Linked DNA regions of Homo sapiens. The protein of the gene in region 1 interacts with the protein of each later gene in a biochemical or structural test. Each region holds a gene or a part of one and is shown in the gene's direction. Other genes may lie near its edges. The genes, in order: ACTA1, DNASE1, TMSB4X and GSN.

The links.
Region 2: the proteins of ACTA1 (region 1) and DNASE1 are reported together in a solved structure, tested with the Homo sapiens proteins (one study listed by BioGRID).
Region 3: the proteins of ACTA1 (region 1) and TMSB4X form a complex in vitro, tested with the Homo sapiens proteins (2 studies listed by BioGRID).
Region 4: the proteins of ACTA1 (region 1) and GSN are reported together in a solved structure, tested with the Homo sapiens proteins (3 studies listed by BioGRID and IntAct).

The regions. Positions count from the first base shown.
Region 1 is NC_000001.11:229,430,954-229,438,160, reverse strand, and holds ACTA1 (actin, alpha skeletal muscle), read left to right. Parts: upstream 1-4,066; 5' UTR 4,067-4,157; intron 4,158-5,033; 5' UTR 5,034-5,045; coding exon 5,046-5,174; intron 5,175-5,280; coding exon 5,281-5,605; intron 5,606-5,729; coding exon 5,730-5,891; intron 5,892-5,975; coding exon 5,976-6,167; intron 6,168-6,258; coding exon 6,259-6,440; intron 6,441-6,518; coding exon 6,519-6,662; 3' UTR 6,663-6,916; downstream 6,917-7,207. UniProt on the Homo sapiens protein: Actins are highly conserved proteins that are involved in various types of cell motility and are ubiquitously expressed in all eukaryotic cells.
Region 2 is NC_000016.10:3,649,570-3,657,742, forward strand, and holds the start of DNASE1 (deoxyribonuclease-1 isoform 1 precursor), read left to right. Parts: upstream 1-5,121; 5' UTR 5,122-5,184; coding exon of another isoform or gene 5,185-5,226; 5' UTR 5,227-5,391; coding exon of another isoform or gene 5,392-5,475; exon of another isoform or gene 5,476-5,803; coding exon of another isoform or gene 5,804-5,804; coding exon 5,805-5,951; exon of another isoform or gene 5,952-6,279; coding exon 6,280-6,368; exon of another isoform or gene 6,369-6,532; coding exon 6,533-6,616; exon of another isoform or gene 6,617-7,068; coding exon 7,069-7,184; exon of another isoform or gene 7,185-7,360; coding exon of another isoform or gene 7,361-7,429; coding exon 7,430-7,542; exon of another isoform or gene 7,543-7,617; coding exon 7,618-7,772; exon of another isoform or gene 7,773-7,953; intron 7,954-8,127; exon of another isoform or gene 8,128-8,150; coding exon 8,151-8,173. UniProt on the Homo sapiens protein: Serum endocuclease secreted into body fluids by a wide variety of exocrine and endocrine organs. Expressed by non-hematopoietic tissues and preferentially cleaves protein-free DNA. Among other functions, seems to be involved in cell death by apoptosis.
Region 3 is NC_000023.11:12,970,290-12,977,809, forward strand, and holds TMSB4X (thymosin beta-4), read left to right. Parts: upstream 1-4,820; 5' UTR 4,821-4,879; intron 4,880-5,956; 5' UTR 5,957-5,972; coding exon 5,973-6,072; intron 6,073-6,487; coding exon 6,488-6,522; 3' UTR 6,523-6,934; downstream 6,935-7,520.
Region 4 is NC_000009.12:121,263,635-121,271,181, forward strand, and holds the start of GSN (gelsolin), read left to right. Parts: upstream 1-4,527; 5' UTR 4,528-4,585; intron 4,586-6,290; exon of another isoform or gene 6,291-6,422; intron 6,423-7,547. UniProt on the Homo sapiens protein: Calcium-regulated, actin-modulating protein that binds to the plus (or barbed) ends of actin monomers or filaments, preventing monomer exchange (end-blocking or capping).

The DNA.
Region 1 (7,207 bases):
GTTTTGGTTTTGGTTTTTTGAGACGGAGTCTTGCTCTGTTCCTAGGCTGGAGTGCAGTAGCGCAATCTCAGCTCACTGCAGCCTGTCTCTTGGGTTCAAGAGATTCTCCTGCCTCAGCCTCCCTAGTAGCTGGGATTACAGGCACCCGCCACCATGCCCAGCTAATTTTTTTGTATTTTTAGTAGAGACCAGGTTTCACCATGTTGGCCAGGCTGGTGTTGAACTCCTGACCTCAAGTGATCTGTCCACCTGGGCCTCCCAAAGTGCTGGGATTACAGACGTGAGCCACCGCACTCAGCTCTCACCTGGTTTTAATCCTCAGATCAGTCTTAAGGAGTATTGTGAGTTGAGAATGCTTTCTGGAAAGTCACTTGTCCAAGATCACATAGCCAGTCAGAGGGGAAGGTAAATGCAGCTCTGCTTGATTCCAGAATGCAAGCTCCTAACCAGTTCATGATATTCTGGGTATAAAGAATGTTGAAGAGAGGGCACTGCTCCAATGAATCATCAGGTTCTTAGAGGTGGCCATGAGTGCAAAAACCACCAGCTTCAGGAGGAGGAAAAAGTAGAAAATCCAAGCCCAAGCCCTTTCTTTGGGCTGCCAGGAGTTGACTCAACTTTTTTTTTTTTTTTTTTTTTGAGATGGAGTCTCTCTCTGTTGCCCAGGCCTGGCGTGCAGTGGTGGGATCTCGGCTCACTGCAACCTCTGCCTCCCAGGTTCAAGTGATTCTCCTGTCTCAGCCTCCCGAGTAGCTGGGATTATAGGTGTGCACCACCACGCCTGGCTAATTTTTGTGTTTTTAGTAGAGACGGGGTTTCACCATGTTGGCCAGGCTGGTCTTGAACTCCTGACCTCAAGTGATCCACCAGCCTCGGCTTCCCAAAGTGCTGGGATTACAGGCATGGGCCACCGCGCCTGGCCGACCCGACGTTTTTAAGTAGCTTGTGAGAATGAGTTGGTCTTTGTCTACCCTGTTCCTGGAATATCTCTAACTTGGAGTGCCCAGCCAGCCCCTCAAAGCTGAGTTTCTGGGGAAGCTACGGCTTTTCATGTCAGGATGTCTTTGGCTCATTACTGGGAAAGATCCCTCAAGGGCCTGTTCTGTTTCGAACTGTACCCAGTGTTGGTGAGGATTAGAGAGAAGCAGCAGTCCTTGCCCTCCCTGGCCACTGGCAGTAGAAGGAAGGACAGCCCAAGCCCGTCTCCTCCACTGGCTGCTGTGGAACCTGGGGTGTGTTTTAGCTCATTAAGCCTCAGTTTTCTTTAAAAAAGAAAAAAAACTGGAATGAGTAATACCTATCTTATTTACCTTAGGATAGTTAAACGGTTAATTGAAACACGAAAGCATATTATAAAGTGTTTTACCAATTCCTGTTTAAATTGATAGGAAACACAGTAGGAAGACTGGAACTGAGCAAGATTGGGGTACGGGTGTGTGGAGTGTTGAGGGGCACAATTGGAGAGAAGGGAAGTGTGAACACACCGGGGTAGTGGTAGCAGAAGGGCCCGGTCAGGGTATGAAGAGCTGAGGCTGCACCTGAAAACTTAGAAGCAGGAACTCCCTGTCAAGCATACCCTACATGGCTGACCTTTACTTAGTGACAGTTCTCAAAAGGCGGAGCAGGGCGCCGCTGCGCTCCCCCAAAACATACATGTATGGAGACGTGGCTCTGCCACCCACCATTCAGTCTATTCTCTAAGCCAATGAGAATGCAACAAGACCAGAATGGGACTGAGGGTGGCCTGTGGTGACCTGTCAGGGACTATTTAAACCAGCCGCAAATCATGTGGGCAGGGAACAGATGCCTGGCTGGCCACCTCAGGGGCCATCTCCCACAGTTTGCTGTACTAGCAGGTCTCTGTTCGCTTGTGAGTGTTTTTAATCATGGTCAGCTTTTAGTGTGGGTTTGAATGTAACAGACTGAGCTTAGAAAAGCTTTCTGTAAGGAAAGGTAAGAGTTGAACTGAGCAAGAGTTTTGAAAAATAGTGACAATCCCATTCTCCTTTGGAATGCGCACAAATATTGAGGTATCCAGTGAACGGCAGCAAATTTCCTACCTTCAAGGCCCAAATGTAAGCTAGTCCCCTTACGTTACATGCAGCTCATTTGCTAAGTGGTTTTTTTCTAGTATCTCCACTACTCGCTGACACAGGAGGACACAGGATGTTAAAAAGGAAATACAGTTCTGTCAATTATTCACTTACTCTCCAAAATACTTGGAAGAACTAAATATGGAACCATAGGAGACTTTATCCTCACCGCATAGTCCCTATACTAGTCAAACTCCTTATTTTTTAATTGATCATTTTTAGGAAGGTAGCATTTTATTCACTAGAACATTTTTGTTAATACTTGTTTATTTTTGGGATGAACTGCCATGATGTGGGCTACAGAGGAGGGTCGCATATGCTTCCATCCCCCTTTTAGAGAATCCACACCTGTCCCAGTTGCTGGGTTCCACTACCAAAAGTGAATTGCAACTATTTTAGGAGCACTTAAGCACATCCGAAAAATGAGTGATTCTGTTCTGGCCCACACCACATCACTGATGTACCCCCTTAAAGCATGTCCCTGAGTTCATCACAGAAGACTGCTCCTCCTGTGCCCTCCACAAGGTTAGAACTGTCCTTGTCTTAGGGAAAAAGGAGAGAGAGAGAGAGAGAGAGAGAGAGAGAGAGAGAGAGAGAGAGAGAGAGGGACAGGCACCAACTGGGTAACCTCTGCTGACCCCCACTCTACTTTACCATAAGTAGCTCCAAATCCTTCTAGAAAATCTGAAAGGCATAGCCCCATATATCAGTGATATAAATAGAACCTGCAGCAGGCTCTGGTAAATGATGACTACAAGGTGGACTGGGAGGCAGCCCGGCCTTGGCAGGCATCATCCTCTAAATATAAAGATGAGTTTGTTCAGCCTTTGCAGAAGGAAAAACTGCCACCCATCCTAGAGTGCCGCGTCCTTGTCCCCCCACCCCCTCCAATTTATTGGGAGGAAGGACCAGCTAAGCCTCATCTAGGAAGAGCCCCTCACCCATCTCCACCTCCACTCCAGGTCTAGCCAGTCCTGGGTTGTGACCCTTGTCTTTCAGCCCCAGGAGAGGGACACACATAGTGCCACCAAAGAGGCTGGGGGAGGGCCTCAGCCCACCAAAACCTGGGGCCAGTGCGTCCTACAGGAGGGGAACCCTCACCCCTTCAATCCCTTTAGGAGACCCAAGGGCGCTGCGCGTCCCTGAGGCGGACAGCTCCGTGTGCTCAGGCTTTGCGCCTGACAGGCCTATCCCCGGGAGCCCCCGCGCCTCCTCCCCGGCGCTCCGCCCTCGCCTCCCCCCGCCAGTTGTCTATCCTGCGACAGCTGCGCGCCCTCCGGCCGCCGGTGGCCCTCTGTGCGGTGGGGGAAGGGGTCGACGTGGCTCAGCTTTTTGGATTCAGGGAGCTCGGGGGTGGGAAGAGAGAAATGGAGTTCCAGGGGCGTAAAGGAGAGGGAGTTCGCCTTCCTTCCCTTCCTGAGACTCAGGAGTGACTGCTTCTCCAATCCTCCCAAGCCCACCACTCCACACGACTCCCTCTTCCCGGTAGTCGCAAGTGGGAGTTTGGGGATCTGAGCAAAGAACCCGAAGAGGAGTTGAAATATTGGAAGTCAGCAGTCAGGCACCTTCCCGAGCGCCCAGGGCGCTCAGAGTGGACATGGTTGGGGAGGCCTTTGGGACAGGTGCGGTTCCCGGAGCGCAGGCGCACACATGCACCCACCGGCGAACGCGGTGACCCTCGCCCCACCCCATCCCCTCCGGCGGGCAACTGGGTCGGGTCAGGAGGGGCAAACCCGCTAGGGAGACACTCCATATACGGCCCGGCCCGCGTTACCTGGGACCGGGCCAACCCGCTCCTTCTTTGGTCAACGCAGGGGACCCGGGCGGGGGCCCAGGCCGCGAACCGGCCGAGGGAGGGGGCTCTAGTGCCCAACACCCAAATATGGCTCGAGAAGGGCAGCGACATTCCTGCGGGGTGGCGCGGAGGGAATGCCCGCGGGCTATATAAAACCTGAGCAGAGGGACAAGCGGCCACCGCAGCGGACAGCGCCAAGTGAAGCCTCGCTTCCCCTCCGCGGCGACCAGGGCCCGAGCCGAGAGTAGCAGTTGTAGCTACCCGCCCAGGTAGGGCAGGAGTTGGGAGGGGACAGGGGGACAGGGCACTACCGAGGGGAACCTGAAGGACTCCGGGGCAGAACCCAGTCGGTTCACCTGGTCAGCCCCAGGCCTGCGCCCTGAGCGCTGTGCCTCGTCTCCGGAGCCACACGCGCTTTAAAAAGGAGGCAAGACAGTCAGCCTCTGGAAATTAGACTTCTCCAAATTTTTCTCTAGCCCCTTTGGGCTCCTTTACCTGGCATGTAGGATGTGCCTAGGGAGATAAACGGTTTTGCTTTAGTTGTCGCCAAGGCAGTTCCCTTCCAAACTAGCGCTAGAGCGAATGAGCGAGCAGCCAGGACCACCCATTCTGGGTTTCCAACAGGCGAAAAGGCCCTTTCTGAGTTTGAAATGTCACAGGGTTCCTAACAGGCCACTCTTCCCTGGATGGGGTGCCAACGCCTTTCCCATGGGCATCTCCTTCCACCCTCACGCTGGCCCAGCAAGCAGGCAGTGCTGAGGCCTTATCTCCCTAGGTGACAGATGTGGTCAGGGAGGCGCAGAGAGGATGGGCACTAGCGTCCAGCTCCTGGAACAGGTGTCAGGCAGGGAGGGCAGACAGGTCTTGGGGAACATGTTCCCCTGGCTATGTGGACAGAGGACTTCTCAGTGGGGTCTCGCGACCCTGTGCCCCTTTTCCTGGTTCAGGGCAGCCCTTAGCCGGGGCAAAGGTCGAGAAGAGAACCCCTGGTCGCCGCCCTGGCAGAATTTGAGTGGCTCCGGCAGGAGATGTCCCTAGGTTCCTGGGGAGGGAGGACGTCGGGGCCAGCCAGGCTTACCCCCCCCTGCCGCTGAGACTTCTGCGCTGATGCACCGCGCCTCTTCGCGGTCTCCCTGTCCTTGCAGAAACTAGACACAATGTGCGACGAAGACGAGACCACCGCCCTCGTGTGCGACAATGGCTCCGGCCTGGTGAAAGCCGGCTTCGCCGGGGATGACGCCCCTAGGGCCGTGTTCCCGTCCATCGTGGGCCGCCCCCGACACCAGGTCAGGCTGCCCCTCCGCAGAGGGAGCCGGCTCGGGGTCCCCGCGTAAGCCAGCCTGGTGCCACCCGGAGCGGCGTTAACGGGTGCGTGGTGTCTCGGCTCTGCAGGGCGTCATGGTCGGTATGGGTCAGAAAGATTCCTACGTGGGCGACGAGGCTCAGAGCAAGAGAGGTATCCTGACCCTGAAGTACCCTATCGAGCACGGCATCATCACCAACTGGGATGACATGGAGAAGATCTGGCACCACACCTTCTACAACGAGCTTCGCGTGGCTCCCGAGGAGCACCCCACCCTGCTCACCGAGGCCCCCCTCAATCCCAAGGCCAACCGCGAGAAGATGACCCAGATCATGTTTGAGACCTTCAACGTGCCCGCCATGTACGTGGCCATCCAGGCCGTGCTGTCCCTCTACGCCTCCGGCAGGACCACCGGTGAGTGCCCGCTGCCCCCAGTCCCCTCTCCCGCCCCCGCCCCCGCCCCCGCCCCCGCCGCTAGCGCTGAGAGCCTAGCCTCGGCCTCGCCCCCAGCCACTCACTCTCTCCCGCGCGCGCACAGGCATCGTGCTGGACTCCGGCGACGGCGTCACCCACAACGTGCCCATTTATGAGGGCTACGCGCTGCCGCACGCCATCATGCGCCTGGACCTGGCGGGCCGCGATCTCACCGACTACCTGATGAAGATCCTCACTGAGCGTGGCTACTCCTTCGTGACCACAGGTGCGCGGCGCCCCTGCACCCCGGGCGGGAGGGCCGGCGGCGGCCCCTGAGTGAGGGCTCCTCTCCTGCTTCTGCCCTCCGCAGCTGAGCGCGAGATCGTGCGCGACATCAAGGAGAAGCTGTGCTACGTGGCCCTGGACTTCGAGAACGAGATGGCGACGGCCGCCTCCTCCTCCTCCCTGGAAAAGAGCTACGAGCTGCCAGACGGGCAGGTCATCACCATCGGCAACGAGCGCTTCCGCTGCCCGGAGACGCTCTTCCAGCCCTCCTTCATCGGTGAGCCCCGCTCGCCCTCGCCCCGGCCCCCAGGCCCCGCCGGCCCCCGGCGCCCCGAGCTTCTGCTCACGCTCCCCGCCGCGGTCCCCAGGTATGGAGTCGGCGGGCATTCACGAGACCACCTACAACAGCATCATGAAGTGTGACATCGACATCAGGAAGGACCTGTATGCCAACAACGTCATGTCGGGGGGCACCACGATGTACCCTGGGATCGCTGACCGCATGCAGAAAGAGATCACCGCGCTGGCACCCAGCACCATGAAGATCAAGGTGGGTGGTGGCCTGCGCGGGCTGTCGGCGGGGTGGGCTCCAGGGTGAGGTCTCCCCACCTCACGCGCTGTCTTGCAGATCATCGCCCCGCCGGAGCGCAAATACTCGGTGTGGATCGGCGGCTCCATCCTGGCCTCGCTGTCCACCTTCCAGCAGATGTGGATCACCAAGCAGGAGTACGACGAGGCCGGCCCTTCCATCGTCCACCGCAAATGCTTCTAGACACACTCCACCTCCAGCACGCGACTTCTCAGGACGACGAATCTTCTCAATGGGGGGGCGGCTGAGCTCCAGCCACCCCGCAGTCACTTTCTTTGTAACAACTTCCGTTGCTGCCATCGTAAACTGACACAGTGTTTATAACGTGTACATACATTAACTTATTACCTCATTTTGTTATTTTTCGAAACAAAGCCCTGTGGAAGAAAATGGAAAACTTGAAGAAGCATTAAAGTCATTCTGTTAAGCTGCGTAAAGTGGTCGTGTTTATTTGCTTGGGGCGGGAGTGGAGCAGGAAGAGGGATTCCCATCCCCCACATCCTCTTAAGTCACTTTTCACGATACCCCAAATGAATGGGCTCCTTGGAAGACAAAACTTACATCTTCCCATGCTCCCCTGCCGGTTTCTGCAGTGGATCAGATCCATTCCAGATCACTGGCAGCTAGTGGTGGCCTGACTTGACCCTCTGGGGTGTGGCGAGGCAGCTTTCTTCCTCTGCGCAGCGCTCCCGAGTGTTGCCAGCACTGCCGGGGCGGCCTCCGCTGGT
Region 2 (8,173 bases), on another chromosome or scaffold:
TATTCAGTAAAGTAGGAAATCTAACTCAGGCATATGCATTATGTCAGATCAGAAGCTTCACACTTTCTCAGTTGAGAGCACTCTTGATTAAGGTTCAATAATTATTTTAATAGTAAGCCAAAAGAAATCCCTGATAGTGGTGCCGGAGGAGACAGGTTGTGTTTTTATCTTGTGGCCTGGGTAGTGTCCTGGGACCCTCTGCCCCATCTGAGTCAAGTGTTGTGGGATAAAGGAATCTCTCAGGGCGAGGAGCTTCTTAAGTTAAATCGGTAGAAATTTAGGCATGACATGGGCCTTCAAATGTGTGAGGAGCTGTATCATTTTATTTCTCGGTGTGTTTTCCCCAACTTCTAGTTGATAAAAAAAAAATTCTTAAAGAGTTTTCGTATGTGGGAGCTAAGGTGGTCTTGTAAAATTTCAAGTCATCCTTAAATAAAATGACCCGCCTGAGAACTTGCTCCCGCTAAGTGGCGAAATCAACTGGAGTTGGTTCCTACAAGTTTTGTTTATTCTAGTTTTGTTTGTAAGTAGGTTGTGTGAGTTAATTCATGGATATTTACTATATGTCTTTTAAATTAGAAAACATTTGTTATTATGTATGTCCTTTTAGATTTTACCTGCAGCTCATACTTTGAAATCATCACCCAGTAGTGTCTTACTCTAGCATCGTCTAAATCTGAGCATCATCTGGTGGAATCTTAAATTTCAGTAGAAACCACGAGTTATTAATACATCTTCCACTCAAGTATCAATTTCAGAAGGAAACGTAAATGAATATTCTAAATAAGGCTAATTTGTATTAATCTGCCTTTATGTTTGAGGGAAAAAAAGCTGAGACATTGCATGAAAGATGATGCAGGATATACGCTGATCTTTTGGCCCCAATGAGCTATTTGAACATTGTCCTGTTTATTGTTAGTTTTCTTCATCATTTATTATATGGTCAATTTTTGAATTCCTGTAATATGAAACCTTATTCTATCTTTTAACTTACTGTTACCTAAAGTTAGTAAGTCCAGATTATATGGTCATTCAAAAAAAAAAAAAAAAAGAAAAGAAAAAGAAATCCCCCACAGTTCCATTTATTAAATAAGTAAACCCCAATAATAAGCATTTGTGTCCTGGCAACTTATAGTGGATGTCTAGAAAAGTAATACATAAAGAGAAATGTTCATGTTATTTGTTTAGTCATGGGATGTGTGTGCCTGTCGAGCACCTCTTCAACTTGGAATCTGGTAGAACACCGCCACCCTCATTGCCTCATTTTTCCACGTCGACCTTCACAGTAATTGCTTGTTCAGTGACTGCCACAACCCAGCCTGGCAGAGAGAGGGAAGATACCCTATAAAGCAAGGTAACGTTAATGTTGAGACCATGAATGGCCTTGAGCAGAGCAGAGTATCATTGCTTCCTTCAAAATTCAGAAGGATCTGATGGTGCTCTGTGAGTTCATGGGGGTGCCTCCGTGCAGGTTGGAAACCACAGCTGTGCGTCCTTCCCGCTTTCCCTCTTGATCAGTAGAAGGGTACCCTCCCTGGCCTGCACGTCGCTGGGTCACACAACACTGGCTGTCGTTGCACAAAGCCACGGCCACCAGCGTTCCTTTGAGGCCATTTGTTTCCAGCCATGGTGCCTATAGGATTTTTCCTTTATCCTGTAATTTCAGCCAAATCAGAGCATGTGACCTGGCTTAGATGTCAATATAATTGTTGTTATGTGCTCTTTTCCCTTCCTGTGTCTGTGACAGGTTTAATTTAACCTGAGAAGGCTGCAGATCCTCGGGGTTGGTGTAAAAACACCTCATCCTGATCTGAGAAGGCGGTCAGCTTTTCTCCTCGTTGCCGTTGGCTGCCAGCACCCATTCTCTGTGGATGTGAAAATCCCAGAAGGGCTGGGCTTCCTTCTTGGGCATTCCCCAGGCCTATCTCCAGAGTGGGGCCCAGCATGGGAGGATTGTACCCCACTCACTCCCCTGATGTGGGGCTTGGACCTACAGCTCGACAGCACCCATGGAATGTGGGCAGAAGCGACAGCAGCCAGCTCCGCCTTGGCCTTAGGGCGGCACGTGTTCTGCTTGTGCCCTGGGAGCCTCCACCTTCCACACTGTGGGAAGAGGGTGCCCAGGGAGCTGCAGTCTCTCCAGCCCAGCCCCAGGACGAGGCCCAGGCAGCAGAGCCACCCCAGCAGACCTGGCAGTGTGAGAGAAATGCATGTGTATACACTGAGTTTGCAGGTGGCTGTTACATGGCAGCATTGACTGACACAGACAGAAAAGAGATCCACGAGGGAGAAGTGAGAGTGCTGGAGACTCCACAAGCCACAGGCTGCAGGGGCAGGATGGCTTCTTAGAAGGTGAAATGATTGTTCTGGGAATCTATCAGAGGAAGACATAGAGGCTCCAGACGGTTGAAGGCCCAACAGTGATCCCAGACGGGCCCCATGTCAGACCAGGCTCCTCCAGGGCTGTGCTGCCCTCACCAAAGCCCGTCCTGAGGGCAGCCACACAGCAGGCAGCACTCGCCATTTGTACAAGCGAGGCCCAAGTTCCAGCCTTCCTTCTGGCAGGTAGAGGAAGCAGGGGCACTATGCCTGGGAGTTCCTGAAAGCAGATGGGGCAGCATTTGGTCAAGAGCCAGGAGGGGATGACAGACCAGAGGGGAACCCTCGTCCCACGTGCTGAGCACACGTAGGGGGTTGGGCACTTGCTCTGTGAGCTATAATTGGTGTCCCTGTGCCCCGCCGGAAGCTGCACCAGGCAGTTTCTTGGTGGAGGACAGTGGCCGCCCTCTAGCTTTACTCCCTTCCCCGTGATGGGTCGCTGTCAGATGTGTGTCCAGGAAAGGCAAACACCAAAGGCAGAGGACTAGTCCCTACACCGAATACTCCGGTGGCCTTGCTTGGGGGCTGGGTTTTGACGTGCTGGAGGCTGTCCTAGACTTAGAGATTAAAAACAGGGAAGAACCATTGCTGAAACCTTTGGAAAAGCCTGCAATGGGGCCTCTGGCAGCCTGAGGAGTGGTGGTGTTTCCATCTGGTAGACGCCGTCTCAATAGGAGGGACAGATGAGTGCACCAGTGCTGCCAGCCAGAGGCGTCTGTTGGCGTGTCTTTATGGAATGGGGTGCCAGTCTTGTGGAGGGTGGTTTACCTTCCTGTTTCTAGTCCCCACTGGGCCTGCCTTCTGCTTCATGGCCAGCTGGCCAGACCGAGCACTTTCCTGACTTTCGACCTTGGCCCCTGCTGACTCTTGCCGTTGAGGCCTCCTGCAGACCCCATTTGTATTCATTTCCTGCAGTTCTCATACCTGAATCCCGCCTGGACTTCTGCCAAGCCTTCCAGGCCCTCCTCCCCCAGGGGGACCACAGATGCTACGTGCAGGGCTGTCCTTGGAGGGCCAGCACAGCCCCTTCCAAGTGGGCAAGACCCAGGGGTGGCTCAAAAGATAGCTGTGCCCTAGCCCTGGAACCTCTGAATGTTGATTTTTGTAGCAAAAAAGGACTTGCAGATGTGAGTAAAGGCTGTTGAGATAAGGACATCCTCCCTGCTCTCTGGGAGGACCCCAAATGCAGGTGCACAGATCTTAAGAAGAAGAGGCAGAGACTGGGGTGATGCAGCCACAACTAAGGAAAGCCAAGGATTGCTGGCAGCCTGCAGAAACTGGAGGGCAAGGAGCATCCCCCAACCGCCCGGAGCCTCCAGGAGGCGCAAGGTCCTACTGACTCCCTGACTTCAGACGTCCAGTCTCCGGAATTTTGAGAGGATCCATTTCTGTTATTTTAAGCAACCAAACTTGTGGTAGTTTCACCAGTCTCAGGAAATGAATACGAATGGAAAGTCAAAGATTCCAAGAAATGAGTGGCGGGGTGCGGTGGCTCACACTTGTAATCCCAGCATTTGCGGGAAGATTGCTTGGGCTCAGGACTTGGAGACCTTGTGTCTGTGAGAAACTTAAAAAATAGGCTGGGTGCGATGGCTCACGCCTGTAATCCCAGCACTTTGGGAGGCCGAGGCAGGCGGATCACAAGGTCACGAGTTTGAGACCAGTGTGACCAACATGGTGAAACCCTGTCTCTACTAAAAATACAAAAATTAGCCGGGTGTGGTGGTGCGTGCCTGTAATCCCAGCTACTCGGGAGGCTGAGGCAGAAGAATTGCTTGAACCCAGGAAGCAGAGGTTGCAGTGAGCCGAGATAGTATTACTGCACTCCAGGCTGGGCAGCAGAGCAAGATTCCGCCTCAAAAAAAAAAAAAAAAAAAAAAAAAAAAAAAAAAACTGAGCATGGTAGCATGCACCTGTGGTCCTGGCTACGCCGGAGGATTGCCTGAAGCCAGGAGTTCAAGACCAGTCTGGACAAAAGAGCAAGACCCCATCTCTACCAAAAAAATTTAAAAATTAGCCAGGCATGGTGCCGTACCCATAGTCTTAGCTACTCAGGAGGCTGAGGAGGGAGGATTATCTGAGCCCTGGCGGTTGAGGCTATAATGAGCCATGATTGTGCCACTGCACTCCAGCCTTGGCAACACAGTGTGAGACCCTGTCTCAAAAACAATAAAAACCCAAAACAAAAGAACCAAGAAATTACTGGACCTGAGGCCTGGCCTTTAGCTGCTGCCCTGCCCTTGTGACCTGGTCACTCGGGATCCCCTGGGCCTAAACACACAGCCTATTGTCTACCTCAAGAAGGCTCCCCACTGCTTGGCTGGCAATTGGGGTGGGCTTTGCAGGCCCCACCTGTCCTGGCCCCACGGCGCTGGTGCTGCAGGCCCCCACCACTGCTTGTTCCGAGCTCCCCAGCCTCCTGCAGAGTTGCCTGCACCTGATGGCGATGAATCAGGAAGGCAGGCGTGTCCTGGGCCACAGAGCAGTCATGGCTGTCAGCCACCAGGGGGCTCCATTTGCAACTTTGGATGTGGCTTTGGCCTCTTTGTCCAAAGTGACCTTGGGGCCCCCAGACAAGAGACAGGGAGACTGGAGCCCAGCCCCACCCTCCCGCACATACCTGGCCCATCCCTGCCCTATCCTGGAAGATGGGGGCCACCACACGTGCAAGGGACACGGGATAGGAACCTTTGGCCTTGTTATCAGACATTTTAAAACTAAGTGCAAACGTGATTATCAGGTGCAGTTTTTACAGCAGCAAGAAACCTGTGCTTACAGAAAGAAACACGTGCTAGCAACCCACCTATGCGGAAAGCCACACAGAGCCATTGTTTTCTGCACTCTCAGGTGACGGCTCACATTTGCCCCAGGGAAGGTCACAGCTGCCTGAACTTTTAAAACTCCCAGACACGCACTGCCTGTGCAGGATCCGGAGCCCAGCAGCACTGCCAGGGCCTTGAAGTGCTTCTTCAGAGACCTTTCTTCATAGACTACTTTTTTTTCTTTAAGCAGCAAAAGGAGAAAATTGTCATCAAAGGATATTCCAGATTCTTGACAGCATTCTCGTCATCTCTGAGGACATCACCATCATCTCAGGTGAGCACCAGGTGGAGTGCCTCTGGGTGACTGGCCGGTTTGGAGCAGGGAGGGAGGCTTAGAGTCTCATCCTCCAGCAGCGAGTGAGGCGGAGGCTCCAGCGTCCCTCCCGGGCGGGTTTTCTGGTGGATGGAGGAGTGACTCGGGGTCCTCTACGTGGTGCCAGCTGTTTGGCTTTCTGGACGTTGTAGGAAAGGGTTTCCCCCGCCTGCGTCCCCCTGACCTTGAGCTCCACCAGCCCCTGCCAGCTGGGCTCCAGAAGGCTGGAGTGCTGTGGCAGGGATGACGTCTCACTTCTGTTATGTCTCTGTGCCCTGTGCTCTCCCAGGATGAGGGGCATGAAGCTGCTGGGGGCGCTGCTGGCACTGGCGGCCCTACTGCAGGGGGCCGTGTCCCTGAAGATCGCAGCCTTCAACATCCAGACATTTGGGGAGACCAAGATGTCCAATGCCACCCTCGTCAGCTACATTGTGCAGGTGAGGCCAGGGCAGCCTCCCCCCAAAAGCAGAGGAGCTCTGGAGTCTAGGGCTGGTGGGCAGGGCCAGCCCTATGGAGCCACAGGGTGTCGGGTGTGGGGTACTGAGCACCACTGCTCCCAGCACGGTGGAACAGGCTCTTGGCTGTGGACCAAGGTCCTCATCCCTGCTGTGCTGTCCCTGGCTGGCAGCAGGAGCCCAGGCAGAAACATGAGGCTGCGGTTAAACCGAGCAATGCCACGAGCATCAGCTGTGGCTCCCTTTGTGGCGCTGTAGGGTCCCTGGGTGGCACCAGCCCTGCTCAGCACCACTGTGGCCCTGCCCCCAGATCCTGAGCCGCTATGACATCGCCCTGGTCCAGGAGGTCAGAGACAGCCACCTGACTGCCGTGGGGAAGCTGCTGGACAACCTCAATCAGTGGGTGACAGTGGCAGGGTCATAGGAAGGTGACATCTCGTCCACGGCACAGCCTCACTTCACTTGGGCCCCAAGGGTGGGGACCTGGGCACAGCCTCGCTATCGGCAGCCAGAGGGGTCCCCTATGGCCCCCGCCACTGGGACCTTTTGTTTCTTCAATCCAGGGATGCACCAGACACCTATCACTACGTGGTCAGTGAGCCACTGGGACGGAACAGCTATAAGGAGCGCTACCTGTTCGTGTACAGGTGGGTGGTCTAGAAAGCCAGGAAGCCCCTCCCTCACCTGGGAGGGCCCCAACAGAGCAGGGAAGTAGTTTGTCCTATTAGTTTGTCCTATGGCAAGAACCTGAGGCTTCAGAGCAGGGTCCAGGGTGGAGTGAAAACACCCCAAGGTCCCGGACCAATGGGTTGAGCAGGTGCCTGGCTCCCCCGCCCTCCTGTCGCCTGGGTCCCGGACCAATGGGTTGAGCAGGTGCCTGGCTCCCCCGCCCTCCTGTCGCCTGGGTCCCGGACCAATGGGTTGAGCAGGTGCCTGGCTCCCCCGCCCTCCTGTCGCCTGGGTCCCGGACCAATGGGTTGAGCAGGTGCCTGGCTCCCCCGCCCTCCTGTCGCCTGGGACGCGACGCCTGCCTCCTGGGAAGCAGGAGTGGGGCAGCTTCCAGCCTGGGGTCACCTCCTCCTGCCCGGCCTTCCCGCAGGCCTGACCAGGTGTCTGCGGTGGACAGCTACTACTACGATGATGGCTGCGAGCCCTGCGGGAACGACACCTTCAACCGAGAGCCAGCCATTGTCAGGTTCTTCTCCCGGTTCACAGGTGGGTGCTGCCTGGGCCAGGGTGGGGCTCGGCTTGGCGCTTATGGCCTCCACCCCCTCCTAGGGAACCTGGAATGCCTGTGTCACACACTGCCCTCCCAGTCCCTGGGGCTTGGGTTTTCCATTCAAGTCATTTGGAAAATATCCACCCCCCGGGGGGACTGTCATGATACATAGTTCCAGCTGACATGGTGACTGAACCTGCCCCCAGGGAGTGTGCCTCACACGACGTGGCTGTCTCCACAGAGGTCAGGGAGTTTGCCATTGTTCCCCTGCATGCGGCCCCGGGGGACGCAGTAGCCGAGATCGACGCTCTCTATGACGTCTACCTGGATGTCCAAGAGAAATGGGGCTTGGAGGTGAGGCCCTCCCAGGGGCAGTGGGCACCAGCGGCCTCCGCATGTCCCAGGGCCACAGGCAGCGTTTCCTGGTAGGACGTCATGTTGATGGGCGACTTCAATGCGGGCTGCAGCTATGTGAGACCCTCCCAGTGGTCATCCATCCGCCTGTGGACAAGCCCCACCTTCCAGTGGCTGATCCCCGACAGCGCTGACACCACAGCTACACCCACGCACTGTGCCTATGACAGGTGAGCAGGGCCTCGCGCTTAGGGCAGACTGAGGGCACCTCCAAGGGCAGCCGTGACTCATAGGTCGGGCTTCAGAAGCCTCAAAGCCTTTGAACACTCACCCAACTGAGCTTCAGTTGATCCACTACAGGGAACAGAATAACAAGAGCCACGATTTTTAGGTTTTTTCGGAAAAGCACATCTGGGGATAAGAGGAGAGGCAGACACCTAGGCTGTCATGTGGTTTCCACATTGAGGGGCACAGACCAGGGTGTGCAGTTTTGGGCACCCACAGACCTGCACTGGCAGGTCCCAGGGCTCTTAGTTTAGTTCCTGCGGGTGCTGAGCCAGGCCCATGTGTGAAAGGGGAACCTACTTTCTCTTCCCAACACCCATCAGGATCGTGGTTGCAGGGATGCTGC
Region 3 (7,520 bases), on another chromosome or scaffold:
TAAAAAAAAAAAAGAAAAAAAGAGAAAAAACATCTACATGATGAAAAAGCTAGACAGCTGATTGAGACAGAATATAACTTTACCCTTATCTGGCGTATGGAACAAAGCCTTTAAAAGGCCTTAGGATTCTAGAGAAGAGTAGTGTTTAAATGAGGCGGCTTCTGAGCCAGCCAGTCTGAGTTCAAATCCTGCCTTTGGCTTTCGTTGTGTTTTCTTGGGGAAGTTATTTAATCCCTCTAGAATTCTCTCATCTGCAAAATGAGGAGAATAATGGTGCCACTGTCATAGGATTGTGTGAGGATTCGGGAAATACTACATGGAAAGCTTCCCAGTATATGGAAAGCACTCAGAAAGCACTTGCTGTTATTACTGCTATGGGTACAGCCATGATTGTTACTATCATTATTCTACAACCTGGCCCCTGCCTGGTTCCCAGCGTTATTTCCTGTCACTTTCTCTCATTTTACGCAAGTGCCTGCCAAGCTAAGCTACTCATTGCCCCCTGCGTTAACTCGAAGATTCTCTGCTTCCGTATTGTTCCCTGGCTGTGTGGAGGCTGAGTAACCACTTGGAGGGGATGTTGTAGAGGAAAATTCAAGCCACAGAAGGGAAACTGGGTTGAATGAGATCCCCTTTTACATTTCTTTTGGCTCTAAAGTTTCCATCGGATCAATAAAGCAAACAGGACAATTAGCAGCACGGCACTCAGCACTGAGCACAGGCGAGGGTGTTCTTTCACTCCTCTTTGCTTTCCTGCCACCCCCTGCTCGCCTTCCTCTTTGCACCATGTGGGTCCGCTCTGGGTGGGAGTCCTGGAGAAAGATACTTCAACTAAAGATAAGGCAGAGATAGGCCTCGGTGGAAAGACTTGGTAGACAGACCTGGGCATTTGATTAAGAGCAAATTGCTTAAATTCTCGGAGCCTCAATTTCTTTAGTAGTAAAATGGGGATATTAGTACTCACTCCATAGGGTAAGAATGGAATCAGATATTGTTTAAAAGGGCTTATAGCTGAGGTTACAAGATATAGCTAGTCTACTAAATATCCTTTCTCTTTTCATTTTCCTGTTATTCACAGGGGGGACTTAGGCTGTGTCTTTAAGGGGTTTTAGATTCCAATCAGTGGAAGGAGGGCTCTGCTGTGAGGGAGACCAGATGGAGACTGCAGGGGCCACAGGGGAACGTGGGGTGCAGGCAGGTGGGGCAGATGGTAGGAGGCCCTGAAACTCAGACAAAGGGATCTGGGCTTGAGAAAGCAAGAGCTGGGAGCTCAGCTTTGTTCCTGTTCTTCCGTTCCTCCCTCCTCTTCCTTCTTCTCTTCTTCTGGTAAGTTTTTGGCACAAAATTAAATAGGTTCAAACTAATAGAACTCATTTTCATGAATTCAGACTTCTAGCCAACTTCTCCATGGTTAGAAATAGCCACGACTCTATCCCAGGCCCGCCCTGGAAAGCAAAATAAAACTGCGTCCCCTGCCACCTTTTCCGGGTTCCACCAGACACAGGGTTGGAGGGGAACCGCCCTTCAACGCAGGCAATGTTGGCACATTTTTCATTGGGCGCTGTGGCCCGTGAGATGAGGAAGGCAGGACAGGCGCAAAGTGGACTCTACTTATCTTTCACCAGAGAGCCCCAAGGCCAGAGTGCACCATACAACCCGGAGTCACCCAAGGCCTTTTTTTTTGGGGGGGGGTCTCACTGGGAACAATGTCTGCACCCATTGTAAGCAGTTCCTTTGCCCCTGTGTGCCTCTGTCTTTTTAATTGGGATCGAAAACTGCTACCTCAATGGTAGTTGTGCCCGGCACATACTAACAGACTTATAAATGTAGCTGCCTGGGGCAGGGATGATCCTGGAACATTCTGACATCTAGAACATTAAGACTAAATGGATTTAATTATCTGGGGAGAAGAAAGCAAGACAATTAGAGTCACAGGTTCAACACCTGAGTTCAAGTACCTCCCTCATTTAAGAAAATCAATTCATGGAAGGCTGAGGCAGAGAATGGCTTGAATCCGGGAGGTGGAGGTTGCAGTGAGCCGAGATCACATCACTGCACTCCAGCCTGGGTGACAGAGCGAGACTGTCTCAAAAAAAGAAAAGAAAAGAAAATCAATTCAATGCAGTGGGAGAACTGTTATTGAGCAATTACTATCCACCAGACGCTGTGGAAAGCACAACTGCCTAGCTCCTCACACTCTTCCTGGTGATTCTCGGGTACAGACTAAGAGGATGTGGGGAGGACTTTTACATGCTCTTGGCATATATAACAGAGTGGCTACCAGCTGAGGTAACCCAATGATGGCTCTCTAAGCCTCAGTTTCCCCATCTGGAAATTTCTTATGGAAAGGCGGTGGGAAAGAAAGGAAAAAACAAATGTAAAACTTACGTTACAATGCCTGACTCTTAGAAAATATCAACCGACAGGAGTTGTCATGTTTTATTTGCTGTAAAACTACCAAAAGATCTTCTATCAACATTTTGTAAGTGAAAATAATAATATATATTCATATGTATTAATTATATAGAAATAATATATAATAATATATAAATGTCTCTATAGGAGAAATAATATCAAGACACCTAAAATTTTTAATTAATTCTAAACACTAAGACAATTATTTTATTATTTTTCCTCAACCTTCCATCCTAAATCATACGAATAATAACAATAGAAAGAGCTTACTAATTGTCATGCACTGTCCGAAGCATTTACTCCTCCCAACAACCCTGTGAGGTCGGTGTTGCAATGAACCCATTTTACAGATGAGAAAACTCCAGCACAGAAAGATTCATTCACATGGCCAGAGTCATGCAACTTTTAAGAATATTCCTTTGGTTTGCATTTCCTTGTATCTGCACCACCCTTCCCTTTCCTGTCTCTCTAGGTCTCCTGACCGGTTGGCAGGTCAGTCCCAATCATGGGAACTCTTTTCCTTTAAGCAGTCGTCTCTCTTTCTCTTCCTCTCTGTTTCCACCTGCCCTCCATCAGTGTCTCAGCACAGTGGAAGGCTGCTTGCTACCGCACTGGAAAACTTCTCCAGACATTTCCAAGTTTGCATTCGTCCATCTCCTTTGGAGAATTGCTTCAGTGAGGCCTAACCCTTTCTGAGGAAAGGCCCTTGGGAGAAGAAGCCAGGAGAAGGTAGTGGCACTCCTTTGTCATCAGGAGACATTGGGAGGAAAGAAATGATTTTCGACAGCAGCTGGGTGAGGGGAAACAGAATCACAGAACCTGCGGAAACGGTGTCGGTACAACGGCAGCTGCCAGCTAAACGGGCGAAAAGGCACCCTGCAAGATCTTTTCTGTGTTTCAACGATGAAGTAGACTCCCAACATGGAACAGGGGCGGGGGGGCTGTTACCAGACAGGTGACATTTGGTGCATGCACGAACAGGTCCAGTGCCCCATTCGGAGGCCAGGAAGGCAGCCACCCAGCAGAGCATTAACTAGGGGACCAGACGGTCACCTGCCCCTGCTCACCCCCACCTCCTTCCTCCCCAGGAAAAAGGAAGTCAAGTAGATGGAGAAACGGGGAAGTCCAAGCTGCTGGCAGTGGCATTCAAGGGTCTATATATAAGGTTGACTCTAATCCCCAGCGAGACAAAAGCCTGTGCCATAAAAATGATTAGCAAGGGGTTTCTAAAAACATTTCCCCAGGCCACGGAAAAGGAGAAGGAATATTTTGCACACTGCCTTGTCTCTTAGAAATAATCACAGCTAGGCCTCTTTATAACCGGCGAGTCTTTTTCCTTTCACACGCCATTTGCAGGCGCGTGGCATGGTATTTGTAACTAATTTTCAGTAGCAAGTGGGTCACTGGTATTCACAGAGTCAGGTGCCATTTTGAAAACTGCTTCCCTCTACCCGAATCTCTTATATTTCCAGATGCAGATGCACTTCAGCGATGTCCTAGTGCTGGAAACGCTCCCTTGAAAATATAATTTGATTTTTGAATTTCATCTTAAGACATTAGAGATAATGTAACTGTAGTCTTTGGAATTCAACGCTGGCCTCCTTAGCCATCACTTTTAAAATTTATGAAAATAAGGAAGAGGAAGGTAAAGAACTTCCTCATTGTCCGGCAGTAAAGTCAATGGCAGAGCTTGAGCTTGACTTATTTTGCTAAGAGGGAGGTGTTTTACCCTATAAACTCCAAATTACCTTACACCCAGCAAATACTACTGTTGAGTGCTCACAAAAATTATGCTGATGAAACAATATGGATGTTTCAGTGATGAAACTTTCTCTTTTAAAATCACTTAAGGGTGCTTTACGTCCCACCCAAGGCAAGAGGAACGCCAGCGAGGAAGACAAAGAGGCCCGGGGTGGGGCGCATGCCCGCCACTGGACTGAAAGCTGAGTCACAGGAATCGTACCCCTGCAGCGGGCCAGGCCCTCCAGGGAGGGACACCGCGCCCTTGTGTGGAGATGTCCACAGTAGACAAAGGCAGTTTCGAAATAAAAGAATGCCTGTCACCCCAGGTGCCACCCCGACCCTTAGTTATTATGCACTGGTCCCCAAGAGCAATTTCTGCGCTGCTGTTGCAAAAATTCATCGTAATGAAATAAACGTAAAAGGGGAAAATGTGTTATGAAGTGTTGGAGGGTGCTTTGCTCATTTTTTTCGCCATCGTTGTGGTTAGGGTGCATGCACTAGTGGACCCCGGGTGGGGGTGGGGCTCCCCTCCCCAAAAGCCCGGCAGGCCTCCGGATGCCGTTCCGAGACGCGGCGCGAAGGAGTTAAGCGGGCCGGCGGGTGACATCACCTCATTTACATAGGAGCGCCCATAAAGCTGCGCCCGCCGCACCCCGCCCGACAACTCGGTGGTGGCCACTGCGCAGACCAGACTTCGCTCGTACTCGTGCGCCTCGCTTCGGTGAGCCCCAGGGCCCCTGCCTCCTTCCTCCTGCCGTCCTGCCTCCGTCCCCGCCCTTTCATCATCCGCGTCCCTGTGAAGGCATTCCCTAAATCCGAGCCCGAGTGGTTCTCCCCGGGAAGGCTACTTTGGGGAGCTGGGGGGATGCGAAACACCCTAGATACTGGATAATGGGGTGGGGAAATCGATGATTTAAGAACAAAACCGAAAAACTGGCGTTTTGCCGTGCCGCTCGGAGGGGACATTAAAAAATTTCTTAGTGTTTGCCCGCAAAGGTATTGTGCGTTGCCTTGGAGGCTGAGATATGGGGGAATAGACAAGTCCTTTGTTCTGAGGTTCATCTTCCGAGCCCCGAGCCTCCTCCCAGCCTCGGACGGCTGCGCGGGCTGCATCTGTGCAGCCTGGCGGCGGCGGGGCTGTGCTATGACATCTTTACAGTCCTTCTTGCAGAGACATGTGTGCCAGGGATGCCGAATTGCCGGGAGAGCAGGCAAGACCGGCTTCGGGGCGCGCGGCGGCCGCTTTGTGTGCGGGGCTGCATTGTGACGCGGGCGATGAAGCCGGTAGGGCGGTGGTCGGAAGCTCCAGCCGCGGCCGCCGCCTTTGTGAGAGGACTAGAAAGCCGGATCCGGCCCGCATCCTTGCGGAGAGGCCGCGGCTAGGAAATGGAAACGCTTTTCCTACCTGGGCTCCATTTTAGGAATTCTTGCCGATTTTTCCCACTTGAATTTGGAAGTGGCTTTCCTCTTCTTTCCTTGTCCTAGCCAGCCTTTAATTTTAAACGCTGTAATTAACAATTCGCAGTGGTCAATTTCCTTTATTCTGCAAGATTCGGCTTTGAGAGGCATCCGCCCTCTTTGGTCCACAGCGTTTTGAAATATGGGGAGGAGGGGCGCGGGGGGTGTCGCCTCTTTTTCTGTAGAAAGAGGAAGCTCGTGAGCGCGGAACGGCAGCAGTAGGAGAGCGAGAAGGGTTTTTTTCAGGCTGCGGGTCGGAGGGCAGAAGTGCAGTTCCCAGCCCAGAGACAGCGGGGCGGGTGGCTCTTCCTCACGCTCGCTCTTGGCTTGCTCCCTGCAGCTTTTCCTCCGCAACCATGTCTGACAAACCCGATATGGCTGAGATCGAGAAATTCGATAAGTCGAAACTGAAGAAGACAGAGACGCAAGAGAAAAATCCACTGCCTTCCAAAGAAAGTGAGCTCCGACCCACCCCCATCTTTAGAAAGGCTGGGTGGGAGCGGCCGGTGGGAGGGCGGGAGGCTGGGAGCGGCCGCGGGAAGAATTCGGGAGGGGGGAGTGCGGGGGAAGAGCCGACAGTTGATGAATGTGGCTTGCAAAGGTTAATTAAAAATGGTTTTGCAGCCAACAAACACGGGGCTTTAGTAATTTAGTAATGGAATATTTAATATGCCATATTAATATACAAACATTTATCCATTAAAATGTATTTCTATTTAGTATATTCAATATACATATTTTATTCCATTGTGGAATACCGTGTAGAATGTTTATGATTTGAAAAGATGCTTTAAATGAAAGCCCTTTAGTCTGTACTGAATCCTTTAATCATCTCCCTCCATCTTTTTTTTTTTTTTTTTTCTGGTCACAGCGATTGAACAGGAGAAGCAAGCAGGCGAATCGTAATGAGGCGTGCGCCGCCAATATGCACTGTACATTCCACAAGCATTGCCTTCTTATTTTACTTCTTTTAGCTGTTTAACTTTGTAAGATGCAAAGAGGTTGGATCAAGTTTAAATGACTGTGCTGCCCCTTTCACATCAAAGAACTACTGACAACGAAGGCCGCGCCTGCCTTTCCCATCTGTCTATCTATCTGGCTGGCAGGGAAGGAAAGAACTTGCATGTTGGTGAAGGAAGAAGTGGGGTGGAAGAAGTGGGGTGGGACGACAGTGAAATCTAGAGTAAAACCAAGCTGGCCCAAGGTGTCCTGCAGGCTGTAATGCAGTTTAATCAGAGTGCCATTTTTTTTTTTGTTCAAATGATTTTAATTATTGGAATGCACAATTTTTTTAATATGCAAATAAAAAGTTTAAAAACTTAGCTGGTGTGTCTGTTTGGTTTCTGGAAGGATCGCGGATGAAACCTTTGCAAAGAGGCCTACCTCTTGGTCCATTGGGGAGGGACAAGCATCTGGTGACTGGATAAATTCCCTTATGGCATAGAAATGGGTTTCACCCAGGTATGCAAAATACCTTGTCTATACTAGGAGATCATTTTCTCAGGCTGATTGAATTCCTAGTATGAATTGTGTGAGAGCTTTAATAAAAATATCTTTGCAGTTCTTACGGGTTTTGATAAGCTGACATTGCACGTGCTCAAGAAAATGAAGGTGATAATTTACAGCACAGTATCTTATTTCAGGGTATCAAATTGAACTTGGTTATTTAACCAAGTGCTAGCATTAACATAGATGAGTAAAAATTACATTTTTAGCAGCTGCGTTAAGAAGGAATTTAGGACTTGAGCTTACTCATTTTCTAATGGCCGGTTTCTAATCAGAGTTCAATATTTACAATTGCTTTAATGAATACAGTTAAGATTAGTGAACATGATTTTAAATTTATTGGGTCCTCTTCATTTGAATAATCTTTGGATTTAAAAGATACTTATTCGATCTTTTGG
Region 4 (7,547 bases), on another chromosome or scaffold:
AATCCCAGCACTTTGGTAGGCTGAGGCAGGTGGATCACCTGAGGTCGGGAGTTCGAGACCAGCCTGACCAATATGGAGAAACCCCGTCTCTACTAAAAATACAAAATTAGCCGGGCGTTGTTGCGGGTGCCTGTAATCCCAGCTACTAGGAGGCTGAAGCAGCAGAATCGCTTGAACCTGGGAGGTGGAGGTTGCGGTGAACCGAGATTGCGCCATTGCACTCCAGCCTAGGAACGAGAGGGAAACTCCATCTCAAAAAAAAAAAAAAAAAAAAATCAGGTCTCATGAGAACTCACCATCATGAGAACGGCATGGGGGAAACTGCCCCCATGATCCAATCACCTCCCTTCCACCAGATTCCTTCCTTGACACATGGGGATTATGGGGATTACAATTCGAGATGAGATTTGGGTGGGAACACAGAGCCAGACCATATCAATTTATAATTTACTTAATTATAAGTTTATATAGATTGTTATTGAAGGCTGTGCTTAATACAGCCTTAATACAGCTGGGTGTAAGAATGCATGGAAATTTGGCCAGGTGTGATGGCTTACTCCTATAATCCCAGCACTTTCAAAGGCTGAGGTGGGAGGATCTCTTGAGCCCAAAAGTTTAAGACCAGTCTGGTAACATAGAGAGACTTCATCTCTACAAATAACATAAAAATTAGCCAGGCCTGGTGGGATGTACCTGTGGTCCCACCTACTTGGGAGGCTAAGGCAGGAGGATTGCTTGAGCCCAGAGGTCAAGGCTGCAGGAAGCCATGTTTGTGCCACTGACTCCAGCCTGGGTGACAGTGAAATCTTGTCTCAAAAAAATCCACAAAAATTCATGGAAATTGAGCAATCAGTTCGTAAGAAAACAACACTAAACACACTAAATCAGTTCTTAAGAACACAACACTAGCACAACACTAAAGGGGACCGAGGCTGGAGAAAATAACAGTCTCCTTTCCTTCTTCCAGCTCTGTCTTTCTCTGACCTCCACACCTTTGCTTATTCTGTGCTCTTAGCAGAAGATGCTGTTCCCTTCCTCACCTCCACTCTTATTCTTTCCATCCTTTCAAGGCTGACTGAATCCAAGCCGTTGTCTCTGCTTGGCTTCCCCTCCCCTTTTCTCTGGGAAGTGCACCCCCTCCACCCACAGGTTACAGTGGGAGCAGCCAGGTTTGTGCAGTAGGACCCTGTCACTCGGGCCAGAGTTAATTAGATAAAGGGTAGGCATCTGATCCAACTTAGAATGTGGACTACAAACAAAGATTCCAGCTTGCTGCTGGTAAAAGCCATTTTCTGGAAAGCAGAAATGCTTGTGTGATGTGAGCAGACAGGCAGAGATGAAAGATGGGGGAGAGAGTACTTTCTGGGTTCCCTTTAGTACTCAGGTCCTGCTTGTGGTCTGATCCTGAGGCCCAGCTGCACCCCTGCCCTAGTGTTCCATGGGATATTTCAGGATCTCCTGAGAGTGCTCTCTCAAGTAATCCCTTGTATGAAATCCCTGTCTCATCCTCTGCTTCTAGGGACAAACTACAAGGCATTCGATGCTCAACAAATACTTGTGCTGATAACTTCTCTTTCTGAAGCCAGCTCCAGGAGAGGTCTGTAATCAGAAGAGCCCCTGAACCCTGAAGCCTCCTGGGCTGCCCAGCCCAGGCATCTCCTCTGTGAGTTTTGCGACACCCTTCTAGTCATTTAACGAGCCTCATTGGCTTTCTCTGTGAATACGATGGAAGATGGCCACCTCAAAATGGCAGCCTTGGCCTTCAGAGATCATTGGTCCTCACAGACCCAGTTAATTAACCATGATTGTCATGTCTCAACTTCCAGCTCCAAATTCTAATAGTCCAGCTTTTTTCTGCCGTCCACTCCTCATGCTGTCAACTGTGTTGTGGGGGAAGGTTACAGTACAAACCTGGGTGCAAGTGAGGGCCATCCCCTTGGGTGGGAAGAGGCGTTCTCAGAGGAGAGAGCAGGTACCCCCAGATTGTCTAATGCCTGGCCTGTGTGTGGCCTTCATTTCTCCCCAGCCTCACTCTGGGAAGGAGGTGGTCTTCTGGCAAAAGAAGATATCAAAGTTCTTCCATCAGAGGAGATCCTTATCAGCAAGACATTCACTCTGAGGTGAGGATCCAGGACAAACAGGCCTTACCTTACCTAGATCCAATGGGGGGAGAAGTACAAAGAGGTATCTAGAAAGGAATGAAGACAGGATACCAAGAAGACTTCTAGGCATCCATGAAAGGCAGACTTGATATATCCTGCCAGCTATAAAATACACATGTTGAGTCATAAAGCAAAGCACCAGGAGATTTCTAGAAGTGTTCCTAGAGGAGCACTCCCATGTAAGTATTGGTTATCATCATCACAATCATCATCAATCAATCATCATCATCATTATCTTCATTATCATTTCTAATGATTCCTGGTGATACCCTGTTCCCATGTTCCTCTCCAGCCACCAAATGGAGCAATTACAGGGTTATGGGTAGGCATCTGACCCAGCTTAGAATATGGAACCTTAGATCTAGCTTAGAATGTGAACCCTTTTGCTCTCCTGGCCTCAGTTTCTCCATCTCTAAAGGGAGGAGTTGGAGCAGACATTCTCCAATGTTTCCTCCATCGTGATGTGGTATTCTCCAGTTCTATGGGGACACAGATTCAGAGTTCCACCTCCCTTTGTCTGAGAGCAGTTGCTGGGGCTGGAAATGATATGTTAGATAATTCCAAGGCATGTGTATGCCGGGGCTTGTAATCAAAGATTCCAGAGCCAAATAAGCCTGTGTTTTTGCTTTTCTCCCCAGCAGCCTTGCATTGGGCCCCAGGCAGCCTCTGGAGAAAGCAGAGAGTAGCAGAGATGGTGTGAGCCTCCCTGCGGGGTGGATACCTTGCTTGTATTCTCAGAGAAAGTGGAACTGGGCAGAATTTCCCAAGCCAGGAAAGGTGGCAGAGTGTGACATAAGACATTGAGCAAAGAAGCGAGGGCCAAGGACTCAGGCATAGAAGAGTAGACTGCACAGTATCAGTAGTGTGACCTCCAGAGAGTACTTAACCCTTTCTGTGGGCTTGGCCTGCTCATCTGAAAAATACACATGGTAATGCCTCCCTTAGGAGGCCAGGTAGGGAGGTGAGAATTAAAGTCGGTAATACGTGGGAAGCCCAGAGCATGGCATGAGGCATTCAAGAAATGGTTCTTGTATTTACTGGTGTTGAACAAAGAGAGAATGGCAGGAGGAAGAGCCAGGGTGAGATTCCCTGGGTCCTGTGGCTTCCCTGGCTGCTATTCAATGGAAAAACCAGGGAGTGAGCACTGTGCTCTTGGCTTCTGTGCTACTTAAACAACAGCCTTTTCTGCTCTGATCCCCAGCACCCGGCAATTACTGACTCTAGTACATTTTACCTTGTGTTAAGAGGGAGCTTTACCCTGGCTGAACATGGGGCTGCTGCCAGCACCCAGGCTGGGAATGGACATCTCTGTCATGTGGTGCAGTCTCCTGTGGAGTGTGTGAATCCTTCCAAACCGGAGTCACGCGGCAACTCCAAAAGTCCTGGGAACTCATGTGTGCACCAGGACTGCTGGGAGGCCGTCTTATGCCTTGCTGCATTATAAACGGCTATCGTCTCAAATGCATATGAGATGTTGTTGAAATCAACAAAGTATTACATTTGCTTAAAATTGACCTTGCACTCATCTTTCTACCCAATGTGGATTTCCTCAATCTCCTAAAACAGTATCTGCCATGACACTAATAAGAACATCCCTTCCGTTTATGCAGAAGCCACGGTCCCTGTCATTGTGCTGAGAGTCTTTTTCTCACTGAGTCTTCTCAACCGCCCCATGAAGCGGCAATTCAGGATGCCCATTTGACAAACGAGGAAACGGAGACTTAGACATGTGAGCTCGCTTGCCCAAAGTTACAGGACTAGTCGATGTCTGGGGTTCCAAACCAGGCCTTCTGACTCCGAGGCGCCTGCTTAATGGTCCACTTTAAGGACCAGGGATGCACTTGGCATTTTCGTTACTTCATTCGGAATGAGCTGGGAATCGCTCTTCCTCCTTATTCCCTTCCGTGGGAGGGAATCTCCCCTGCTTTGCATGCAGCCTATGTCACTCTTCGAGGGCTTTGCCTCCTGAAGTCCGTTCTCTCCAGGGCTGAAATCTGCCTCCGCTGGTGCTAGTTGAGCATTGCTCGCTTGCCCGTCCCATCTGAGCTCTTTGGCCCCAGCCCAGCTCAGGAGCTGCCCTGGGTCTCCTCCCCGACCCTAGGCCTCTTCAGATCTCCCCTCCGTGCTCCGGGCCTCAGTTTCCTCCAGGGGAAAGCAGAGGGCTTGGTTTGGTGCCTTCCTGCGAGGTGAAGCGAGGGGTCCCCCTGGACGAAGGCGAGCTTGGAGCCACCCGCCCAGCAGCCGACGGGAGGGCCTGGCGCTCCTCCCCCACCCGCCTGCCCGGCCGCCCCGCCCCGAGGGCGGCTCCCGCCCGCGCCCTGCCCACCCCGGCCGCGCGCACCACAACGCCCCCGCCCCGCCGCCCGGAACCAGCTGAGCGCAGCTGGACCCAGCAGCCGCTGTCTCCAGTGCCGCAGCAGCAGGTAGGGGAGGCGCGCGGCCCCGGCCCCGGGCATCTGGGGGTCCCGGGCTGATTTGAGTCCTTCCTCTCCCTTCCTTCCCGGTCCTATCTCGCCCGCGCCTGGAGCTCGGCCCGGCCGCGGGGGCATCGCTGGAAAAGGGCTTCCTCGCTCACTTTTCCCGTCTTCCAAGGGACCAAAGAGTGTGGATGGGAGTTGGGGGATGGGGAGACGCCGGAGCAGGAGAGGAGAGGGGCCAGGCCTCCACCCCGTGATTCCACTGTGCTGCTAGCACCTGAGCTAATAACCTCGACCCCGCCCCCGGGATGGGGGAACTGGCCCGGGGTCACCCCTGCACTTGGGTTGTCTGACCCGGGCATGCAGGGGACCACCAGCTACGGTCTGGGCGGTGACTCTGCTGGGGAGTCCACTCAGAGGACCCTTGCCTCCTGGACGATACCTGTGCCTGCTCTCCTCTCCAGCTGCTTCCTCTTTCTGGGGACTGTTAGAAAGTTCTTCCTTACACTGTCTGAAATCTTCAGGCGCCTGCTACCTGTAGGTGCTGGCTTCTCCCCGGCCCTGCAGTGTTCCCTTCCCTGACTCACACGGAAGCTTCTTCTGGAGTTGAAGACAGTGATTGGAACCCCTTCTCCCTGAGCCCCCATGTCTTCTGGGGTCCAGCCCCCCAGAACCTAAATAACAGCAACTTCCCTCTGGTCCAGTGCAGGCTGGCTGGTCTGGGCAGTGCCCAGGGGGAAGCCCCAGTCCTTGGAAGGCTGGGGGCTGGGGGTGTGGGTGAGCAGGAGACATTGGCTTTCTTCCTAGCTCCTTGTCTGCCCAGACATCTGTCGCTTTATCCTGTCTTCACACCCTCCTCAGAGCATGGAAGGGAGCTTTAAAACACCCAGAACTCATTCTGGGCTGTCCTGAGGGTAATTGGACTTTGTGGAAGGCGGGGCCTCTGGGGAGGTGCCTTTCGCTTTTGTTTGGCATCTGGGGACTTTTCAAACACTTAATCCTGTGTGTCCTGTTCTCCCAGGACCACATTTCTGACCAGGGCACCAGGACCTCTCACCGCTCTGCCGTTTACAGCGACCATAGCTTGCTAGAATCTTACCCCATCTCCATTTCCTCCATTTCACAGTTGAGAAAAGTCAAGGACCCAGAGAGTTTATGATGGGCTAATTGTCACACAGTGAGGCAGGGTAGGGCTGAGACCCAATTCCGGTCTGCCGTTTGCGGACTCCTTGCTGGGAGGGACTCTAGCCTCCTTCTTGGGTGTTCCGTTTACTAAAGGGACAAGCATTCCCTGTACATACACACTTGGGGGTGCTGGTTGGTGTTTCTTGGGGCTGTTAAGGGGGAGAGGCTTGGAAACAGAGGAGGAAGGATGGGGGTGGGAACGGTCGGCTTTCAGCTCCTTTGAAACTCCATTTTTCTTTCTGGGGCCATGCTATTTATAAATGCCAGGGAAATTGTAAACAGCCAGGGGAGCTTGGGTTGGCACTCGGTGAGTTACACAGCAGCAAAGAAGGTTTCTGTGTGAATCAGGGGAGGAAAGTTTACTCCAGAATTTTCCACAGTCCTTTTATTAGGGACTAACATGAGCCTGGAAACAGGCTGCTCCCAGGAGGGGTGGCTGCAGGGTTTGCCCCGCATGGCATTTCCTTCCTCCCCGCCTCCCTCCTTTCAGCACTTCTCTGGGCCTGTGTTCTGTGCCTTGCCCTGCGAGGGGCCAAAGAGCCTTGGAAGAGGACAGAGCTCTCTGTCCTCAAGATGCTTGCCATCTATACTGTTTGACACTTTTGTGCCATATTAAGAGTGACTTCAGCCTGCAAGAGGAGTGACTAATTTTGTCTAGGTGAGCCAGACCTCAGAATGAATAATCATTTACCAGGAGAAACAGGAGTTGGGGGAAAAGACATTCTGGGAAGCAGGAACCACTAGTGCAAAGGCACTGAGATTTTCTGAGCCATCCATGTGGCTAGAGTGGAGGATGGGAGAAGGGCGGGGTGGTGGGAGGTTGAGAATCTAAATGAAAATGGAACTAGATTATAAGCTAAGGGTTTGGACCTCATCCTGAAGGCAATGAAGAGCTGAGAAAGGGTTTTGACAGAGCAGTGATTTTTAAAAACTCGTTATTCTGAATGGCTGATGTAGGGGATGCATTGAACGAGGCTGATCTGGAGGCAGGAAGGCCCTGAGGAGGCTGTTGCATGATTCAAGTGAAGTAGATTGCAGGTCTGAACTAGAGCAGTGGCCACTGGGATGGGTCAGAGCAGCAGATTCTGGAAGCCCAGCTGAAGGTCTCAGAACCTGCTATAAATTTCATCTAAAAGCAGACAACAGGCTAGACCTACTGGAGAAGGTTGCTAAGGTATTCAGCATTGTAACTTTTTTTTCTTTTTCATGAGTTTTAAAACAAACAAAAATTGTTAAAGAATCCCTCCAAGCCCGCCTCTTTCCCCAGAGGTCGCCACTGTTAACAATGGTGTGTGCACTCCTGCCAAACACGTTGATTGGATGCCTTCACTTTTAGCCATCCAGTGACAGTGGGTCACTTTCCCCTACTCCATGTGAATAGTTTGGGTCATTTGTGATGTGGGTCATAGAGATGATTTCTGCTTGGTCTATGGTACGTTGCTGAGACACTGAGCTCTGGTTTTCTTTAAGAAAACTTTTACATCCTGTGTCTGCGGCCTCTGGGTGTGTATATTTGCTTATCAGAGACCACAGGTGTGAGAGAAGTTAGAAGCACTGACTTGGAAATGGACCCCCAGTCTTGGTTCTTTGGGTGACCTTGGGCAAATCCTATCTCTCTGAGCCTCTGGTTCCTCATGTGTAAAATGGAGAGATGTTGGTTTGCATGATAATAATAAAAAGCTATCTTTTAACTGGGCATGGTGGCTCACACCTGCAGTTCCAGCATTTTGGGAGGCCGAGTTGGGTTGATGGCTTAAGCCAGGAGTTTGAGACCAGCCTGGTC